3 separate regions of the Homo sapiens genome follow, and all the other regions are linked to region 3. The links come from fine-mapping of genetic effects on gene expression. A gene starts in region 3. Each other region holds a variant in brackets. All regions are shown on one strand. Distances are from middle to middle.

Evidence for each region. PIP is the estimated chance that this variant, and not a neighbour inherited with it, causes the effect.
Region 1: its variant is fine-mapped to the expression of AAR2 in whole blood (INTERVAL, PIP above 0.99).
Region 2: its variant is fine-mapped to the expression of AAR2 in whole blood (INTERVAL, PIP above 0.99).

The regions. Positions count from the first base shown.
Region 1 is chr20:36,177,932-36,180,687 of GRCh38, forward strand. It overlaps EPB41L1 (erythrocyte membrane protein band 4.1 like 1), which reads left to right. Exons shown (of 22, transcript NM_012156.2): 4 at 21-125; 5 at 699-741. All of the region lies in intron 2 of LOC124904892 (a long non-coding RNA gene), which reads right to left. Among named protein-coding and RNA genes, the nearest start is that of EPB41L1-AS1, 24 kb to the left of the region's middle. The variant A/G (reference allele first, on the strand shown) is at 1,641.
Region 2 is chr20:36,100,303-36,103,058 of GRCh38, forward strand. It overlaps a transcript of EPB41L1 not described here. Among named protein-coding and RNA genes, the nearest start is that of NORAD, 51 kb to the left of the region's middle. The variant A/AAAAACAAAAC (reference allele first, on the strand shown) is at 1,704.
Region 3 is chr20:36,235,080-36,237,829 of GRCh38, forward strand. AAR2 (AAR2 splicing factor) reads left to right here and starts at 1,399. Exons shown (of 4, transcript NM_001271874.2): 1 at 1,399-1,424. It overlaps LOC105372602 (a long non-coding RNA gene), which reads right to left and starts at 1,387. Exons shown (of 3, transcript XR_936695.2): 1 at 1,279-1,387.

The DNA.
Region 1 (2,756 bases), 57 kb before region 3:
TGCTCTGCTTCCCTCCTTAGAAACATGGCCGGGGCCAGGTGCTGTTTGACCTGGTCTGTGAACACCTCAACCTCCTAGAGAAGGACTACTTCGGCCTGACCTTCTGTGATGCTGACAGCCAGAAGGTACCTGGGCTAGGGAGCAGGGTGGGACCTGCTCTTCCGTTAGGCTCCTGTAATCCTGGCCACCCCCAACAGCATCCATTAGTGCTCAAATCATTAAGCATCTTCTGTTTGCGTGTCCCCAAGGCTCAACCAGCCCTATCCACCTGCGGTTCCCTGTCTCAGCCATTTCTTGGTGACATACAGGTCACCCCCAGATGAGAATTTAGAGAGCCCTGGTCTGGCTGCTAGAGTTGCTGGGGGAGCTGAGGAGCTCCCTGCTAGAGCTTCTCCCCTACCCTTGGGAGGCTCTGAGTTTCCTTCTTCCTGCCAGTCCCATTGCAGATGCATCACCTGCTCACTGGGACTGCCTCAGGGCAGTGGCAGCTCCGGGCACTGGGTCCAAGCCTGGTGGTGAATCCTGGCCCCATTCCCCTCACCCCCTAGTCCCAAGGAAAAGGAACCAAGAGGCTTAGCCAAGGAAGGGCGTTCCCTACAAGGGGCTGCTGACCAGCCATTTCAGGATATTTCTCTCTCTCAGCCCAGTCAGGTCCTTTCCTGCGTCTTCCCTCTGAAGATCTCTATCTTTTCTTTTAGAACTGGCTGGACCCCTCCAAGGAGATCAAGAAGCAGATCCGGAGTGAGTGGCTTGTTGTGTTTGGGGAGGTGGGTGGGTGAGGGGATTCCAGGCCATGAGAGCCCCCCTTGTACTGCTCTCTCCTCCTTTGGAAAGTGCATTTCAGGCCAGGCGTTGTGGCTCATCCCTGTAATCCCAACACTTTGCGAGGCTAAGGCGGGTGGATCACTTGAGGTCAGGAGTTCAAGACCATCCTGGCCAACATGGGAAAAGCCTGTCCCTACTAAAAAAAAATACAAAAATTAGCTGGGCGTGGTGGCGGGTGCTTGTAATCCCAGCTACTCGGGAGGCTGAGGCACTGGGACTGCCTCAAGCGATTCTCTTGGACCTGGGAGGCAGAGGTTGTGGTGAGCTGAGATCATGCCACTGCACTCCAGCCTGGGCAACAGAGCAAAATTTCATCTCGAAAAAAGAAAAAAAAAAAAAAAGAAAGAAAATGCATTCAGATCCATGAGTCCGTGTACTCCACATGGCAGATCTTGGGAGAAGCCAGAGTGGGAAGGACAAGTCTAAGGCCCAGAGAAGAGAGACGACTGTGCAGAGTCACACAGCAGGTTAGCAGAGGAATCATAAATACATTCAGGACGCCAGCTCTAGAAGGGACCTGCAGAGCCATCTAGGACAAAGGACAAGCAGATGGGCTGGAAACAGCCACCCTTCTGTCCAGGAATGGTGTAGTCTTCAGTAAACAATGACCCTTTCCTCAGAGGCCCAGAGAGAGGCAGTTATTACCTAAGGTCACAGAGCCAAATGTTGGCTGAGCCAGGTCTTGAGGCCTGGTCTTCCAACACCATCCTGTGCTCTTTTCAAGGCCTGGGGTGAAGGCAGATGAGCAGGCCAACAACCTGTCCTTTCTGGCCCAGAGAGAGAAAGCATGTCGGGAAGGGATGGGGCAGCTCCCA[A/G]ATGGCAGAAGGGGGTGGTAGGTGGCCTCAGCAAGGCAGCCTGAGTAGTTGGAGACCTGGCGCCTCGAGGCAGAGATGCCTCCACCCAGGGCCCCTCCCCCTTGGCTGTGGTTGGTCTCTCCTGAACTCCCTGGTCCCCTGGCTGGAAAGCTGTAGCTGAGCCTGTTACCATGACAGCGGGCAGCTGGGCCCAGGGATGCCAGCTGACTCTGCAGGAGGGGGCTCGAGGAATTCTTCCTGAAGGTTCTGTCAGTTGGAGACAAAGAGGCAGGCACACAGACAGAGTGCACTCCTCGGGGGGCTGACAGATCCTCCGCCTGGGCTTCAGGCTGTCCCCCAGGAGCCCCAGCCTGGCTGGGAGGCCTGTCTCTCATGACTAAAGGGATCGGAAAACATATAGGCAGCCGAGTGTGTGGTGTTTGGTCAGGACCAGGAGCTTGGGAAAGACAGGTGGCTGGACCAAATGGTCAGGTCTCAGCATCCCTCCCAGAGGTGGCCTGCAGCCCCTGCCAGCACAGCCCAGGCCTGGTGGATGTCACTCCTTGTAGCCATCCCAAGTCATCGAGTAAGTCTTGATCGCTAGCAAGTACCTTATCCAGGAGAGCCACAGTCTCTGCCTCTACCCCTGTAACTTCCAGCCATTTATCCTCATCCTACCTTCTGGTGCCCCAGTGGAGCAATTTTTTGCCCTCTGTGACAGCACCTCAGCCTTCTGAAGGTGGTCCCATTGGTCCTTGTGGCCTGAGCTTCAGAGTTGGGTGTATCTCCTCCCAAACCTCAGTGCACCTGGGGCAAGGTAGGGCAAAGTAGGGCACCTGGGACAAGCTTTCCACCCCTCTGGGCCCCTGCTTCTCCTTGGCCAGTGGATTAGTAGTTCCTGCCTCATGAAGTGGGGGTGACAGTTCAATGACATATGTATGGACAGCACCAAGCACATAGTAGGTGCTCAGTAGCTGTTTTCTTCTTGCTTCCCTGAGGCAATCTGGTGTGATGGTTAAGCAGACAGACACTGAGGCCAGACTGCCTGGATTTGAATGTTAACTCCACCTGCTTCTTGTGTTGACTGTGCCTTGGTTTCCTCCTCTGTAAAGCAGGGTAGTGCTAGTACTTATATTT
Region 2 (2,756 bases), 130 kb before region 3:
TCCCTTCTGTCTGCTTTCTCCCCTTCCCTCTCCCCACCTTGTCCCCAGATTAGAGGTCTAAAGATAGAGTCTCCAGGCCCACTTCAGGTGGGTGGTTTTGGGTTTGCTTGAGGCCACCTAGAATTAGAAAGTCTAGAGTCTTCCTCATAAGAGGCTCACTCTGGTGACTTATAATCAACTGCTTATGTTTATTGGCTTACTGTGTGCCAGGCCCTGTGCTAAGCGCTTTACATGCCTTATGTCTTTTAATCCTTACAACTACCAAGTGAGGCAGAGATGATGATCCCCGTCGTATTACAGGAGGCTAAATAACTTGCCCAAGGCCTACGCAGTCCTCAGCCAGCAAGTGGCACAGCTGGGATTTCAATCTAGATCTGTCCGAAGCCCACCGGTACTCTTGAGTCTTTCCTATATGGCCTGTGACAGAGCCTGCGGGAGCATTTAGGTGTCCACAGAGGGGCATGCATTTGCTCAAATTCAGAGAACAAATTCTTGACTCTGAAAGAAGGGCTTCCAATCGAGGAATCTTCCCTCCCAGGCCTGCACTCTGGCAGCACCTCCGGGACTGGCCTTTCTACAGCATCAGCCTTGGGGCCCGCCAAGGCTCTGAGCCCATCTGGTTCTAGGCAGCTGCCCACCTGTAGGAGAGACACTGCATCGGTATGGGGGGTGGTGACAGGGCCCATCTGAAGGTACTTGCCTTTTTTCCTAGTTATTGTTTTGTCTCTGGCCACCTCAATTTTTCATTGAATCGAGTCTTCCACTTAAAGAAGCATATCATTTGCAAAGAGCATTACTTTTGTCTCCTCACAAGACTGCTTGGGAGCTTGGATATGCTGCAGGCTCAGTGACGGGTGGAACTCTGGAAGAAGTGGGGAGGGAGGCAGAGACCGGAGCCAGGAGACCCAGGTTCAGAGGTACATATCCACCAGAAGAAAAAAAGGAGCTGGCCTGAGGGCCAGAGGGAGGTGGCCTGGAGAGAGGGAGGAATAGGAAACCTGCTCTCACCCCATGTGCAGCCCGGGAGTCCAGACTCCCTCCCAGTCAGGGCTGCTGGTCTCAGACTGTCACTCAGGAATCTGGGCAGCTGCAGTCAGCTTGTTGAGCCTCCACCCACCCCAACCGAGACCATTATGTTGGTCAGCCTGGCTCAGCCCAGCCACCTGCCTGCCTGAGCAGGTGGCTCAGTCAGAAGGGACCTTGGTGAAGGAGTGGTGGCTTTGAAACTTCTATCCACAGAGCCACTCTTCATAGGCAAGGGAGCAGAAGTTCAATTTGTGAAACACCTAAAAGGGGGAGCAGCTTAGCACCCCACCCCATTCCCCTCCCTCCTAGGGTTCCCTAAGGCTGGGCCTCTCAAACTTTGTTTCCCCCTAAGAGCAACAAAGGTGAGCATGCTAAAAAGCAAAATAAAACAAAACAAAACCTGTGTGCCATGGCTCATGCCTGTAATCCCAGCACTTTGGGAGGCTGAGGCAGGTGGATCACCTGAGGTCAGGGGTTCGAGACCAGCCTGACATGGTGAAACCCTGTCTCTACTAAAAATACAAAAATTAGCTGGGCATGGCTGCATGCACCTGTAATCCCAGCTACTAGGGAAGATGAGGCAGGAGAATCGCTTGAACCTGGGAGGCGGAGGTTGCAGTGAGCTGAGATCACACCATTGCACTCCAGCCTGTGTGACAGAGTGAGACTCTGTCTCA[A/AAAAACAAAAC]AAAACAAAACAAAACAAAACAAAACAAAACAAAAAAAACAAAAAAACCCAGCACTCTTTTTCCAGACCTCACCCAAGAGATTCAAACCCAGCTGCTCCATGGGCGGGGTGGGGGGTGGGCGTCAGATCCGAGGTAGGGCCCCGGAAGCAGCCTGCTGTAACAGTCTCCCCATCGAGATGATTGGGACACAGATGGTTCTCAGATTGCCCTTGTAGAAGGCTGGCCTCAGATGTTCATGAACTTCTGAAATATGGCATGCACAATGTTAAGAGTGTGCATTGTCCCTAGGAGAGGATCCACAGGCACCGTCTGTCTTGGAGTCACAACCCATACAACTTTAGAACTGCTGTCTTCAGGGTTGTTTTGCGCAGTTGGAGCCTAACGTCTAGAGAAAGGTCACCAGGGAGCCAATGGCAGAGCTGGGTGGAGAGGGCTGGTCTCTCATGCCTCTCAGCACATTACTGGCTTTGCTGTGAAGGTGGTCAGGGACTGTAGACCTGTCCCTCTGTCTGGGCCTCAGTTTTCCTAGCTGTAAAATGGGGGTTGGACAGGATAATCCCAAGTTTCCATGCAGCTTTGATCTGTGGTTCTGGAAGTCAGGTCTCCTGCTGCCCAGTCCAAGTTCTTTGTCCTTTTCCTTGCTCCTCCCTGGCTTCACCCACCACTGGGGGGACCTCCCACTTTTGCATCTTCCATCTTCAGAGATTCTGGACACAGCCTGCATTCTGGCCCCTTGAGTCCCTTCTGTCTGACCACATGCCCAAATGCTCAAGTCCTTTCTCCCTTTCCGTCCCCACTCACCATAATTGAGCAAGGTGCCTGTGAATCTGGGGAAGCTCAAGGTGACCTCTGTTCAGAGCTGGACATGTGGGTCAGTGCCAAGGGGAGGGCTGCGAAAACTAATTTCCTGAGGCTCCTGGGACACACCCAGTGCTTCCTATGTCTTTGCCCTAGCTCCCTCTGTTCCTCCCTGCCAAGAATGCCACCCCCTCCATTCCCCAATCACTGTTGAAATCCTGTCTGCCTTTTCAAGGCTCAGCTCAGATGCCAGC
Region 3 (2,750 bases):
TGCAGCAGCTCATTGTGATTAACCATGACTGCAGGGCCCGGTCTAGTCTGCAACCCACTAAGAGATAAATTTTGACCGAGACAGATTGGCGTGTCCAGCTGTCACTGAGGAAATGTGACAGACAAGCTAAGGAGCAGCAGCACAAGAGATAAGAACAGACAGCCCTTGGTTTGCATTCTAGCTCTGCCATTCTCTGGCTGTGTAACATCTCTTTGAACCTCAGTTTTCTCTTCTGCAAATTGGGAATACACATACCTTACAAGGGTTAGTGCAAGGATTATAAATACCCAAGTGGGCCGGGCACGGTGGCTCATGCCTGTAATCCCAGCACTTTGAGAGGCCAAGGTGGGCAGATCACCTGAGGTCAGGAGTTCGAAACCAGCCTGGCCAACAAGATGAAACCCCGTCTCTACTAAAAATACAAAAATTAGCCAGGCACGGTGGTGGGCGCCTGTAATCCCAGCTACTTGGGAGGCTGAGGCAGGAGAATGGCTTGAACCCAGGAGGTGGAGGTTGCAGTGAGCCGAGATAGCGCCATTGCACTCCAGCCTGGGTGACAGAGTGAGATTGCGTCTCAAAAAAAGAAATACCCAAGTGGCCTGCCCTAAAATCACATAAGCCAATTCTTGGCAATAAATCACTTAATATAGATCTCCTACTGGCTCTGTATCTTTGGTGGAACCCTGATTAATAGTGCAGGGTTAGACCCACAAATAGTTATTTATTAATACCAAATTATCATCATTATTAATTAAATGCATAATATATGTACTCAGCTGAGCTTTTGTGCCTGGCTTTGTGCTCGGTTCCAGGGAAACAGTGAGGAACAAGACAGGCAGATTCCTTCCCTAGTGCGTTGATAGCCTGACTGAGATGTTAGGACTTGGCCTGCAGGAAGGACACGGGGTGATAATGGCCAGAGGGACTGAGGTGGCGACCGCTGCTGCTGCAGCAGCGGAGGCTGACGCTGGTTCTCTCTGGGCTGGTGGCTGGGTTTCTGAGGCTCTCCCCGAGGGCTGAGTGTGACTGGAAGCTGAGACACTGTGACCGGGATAGAGACTGGCTGACAAAGACAGTGACCGAGCGCCTGACTGGCTACTTCTGAATAGTAGCCACTGGTACAAGCCTTGGCTGTGCTTTAGTGACCATGACTGCTTGAGCCCAAAGTAAGATGGCTGGTGGCTGTGTTTCTGGACGGGGATATAAAATGCATAGGTTAATGAAAGTTGTTCACAATTCAGAAGCTAAAACGAGAAACTAAGAATAACAAAAGGCAACCTTGCATCCGGCGGAACCTGCAGGCACGGGCCATTCTTCCCGCGACCCAGGGCTCTGCCGGACCGCTTCCCCCGTCGCTCCAGTCAGACGCCAAAGCTGGAGAACTTCCGGTGCGTTTCCGCTGTACCGGAACGTGGGGCGAGGCGGTGAGTGTGGCCTCCTGGCCTCTTTTTCCTTTCCTGATTCCTTGTGTATGTGTGGCTGGGCCGCCCCTCTTCTCGGCTCAGAGTCACGGAGTGCCTTGAACTAGGCCCACCTCGCCGGGGCGGCTGGTTCTCTGTTTGTGGGACGCTGGTGTCTCTGGAGGCCCTTCCTGAGAAGCCGTCGCCAGAGTTACGTCGCGGTTTTCTTAACTTTAGAGCCTGGGGGCCGGAGACCCTGATTGCACTCGACCTGGCTCTGCCCTACTCTCTGCGTGACTTCCAGTAAGGTCTTTCCCCGAACTGAGGCTTTGTTTCTCGTTTACAAAATGGATATCATACTTGTATTAAATAAATGTTTACTAAGCGTTGAATCTGTGCTAGGGATACAGCAGGACTCAAGTCTCGTGGCGATGACAGCCTTCAATCAAACATCCAAAACTGCAGTTGTGATCATTGAGACGGAAAGGTACAAGGCACCCCAGATTATATCACAGGAGACCTGACCTAGCCCCAGGGCAAGGAACCTTTACTGAGGAGGTGAATATTGAGCTGAGATCAGAAAAAAGGATTTGACAAAGTGGGGAGGGAAGAGTTTTCTATATGGAGACAGCCTCCAATTTCAGGTTCTGAAAGAGGCCGTTGTGGCTGGAACAGAGAGCTTGTGGGGGACCATTGTGTGACACAAGCTAAAGGGGTTGCCAGGAGTCAGACCGTGCAGGCTTTGTAGGTAATAGGAAGAATTCTGGTTTTTCAAGAACCATATGGGAAACCACTCAGAAGCTGACATGGGTGGTGTTGTGATTAGATTGGCATTTTGAAAAGGTTACTGCTGTTGAATGGAGAATGGGTTGAGGAGCAAGCACTCTGAGTGAGGGACGATGGTAGCTTGGATTAGGGAGGTGGTGGAGAGAAGTGGATGGATGTGACTTTAGGTGTTCCAGGACTGTGAGGAACTCACAGAGCTGTCAGTGACAGGGGCTGGTAGACTGCAGAGTTCTATGCATATTTAATAAACGTTTTCCTAGCATCTCCTCTGTGCTAGGCCCTGTGCCAGCTGCTGGAGATATAGTGAATAGAATTACAGACTGGTGGAATTAGCATGAAAGAAACGTCATTATCAAGGAGGAGCACACAGATGTCACAAGGGAAAATGGCTAATTGATGAGCTGTTATTGTAAATGGAATATCTGTTCATTCAGCAAATATTAAATACTTTCTGAATTCAGGATTACAAATAGGAAGATGATACGTATTATTATTATTATTATTATTATTATTATTATTATTATTATTATTATTTTGAGACGGAATTCGCTCAGACCCCCAGGC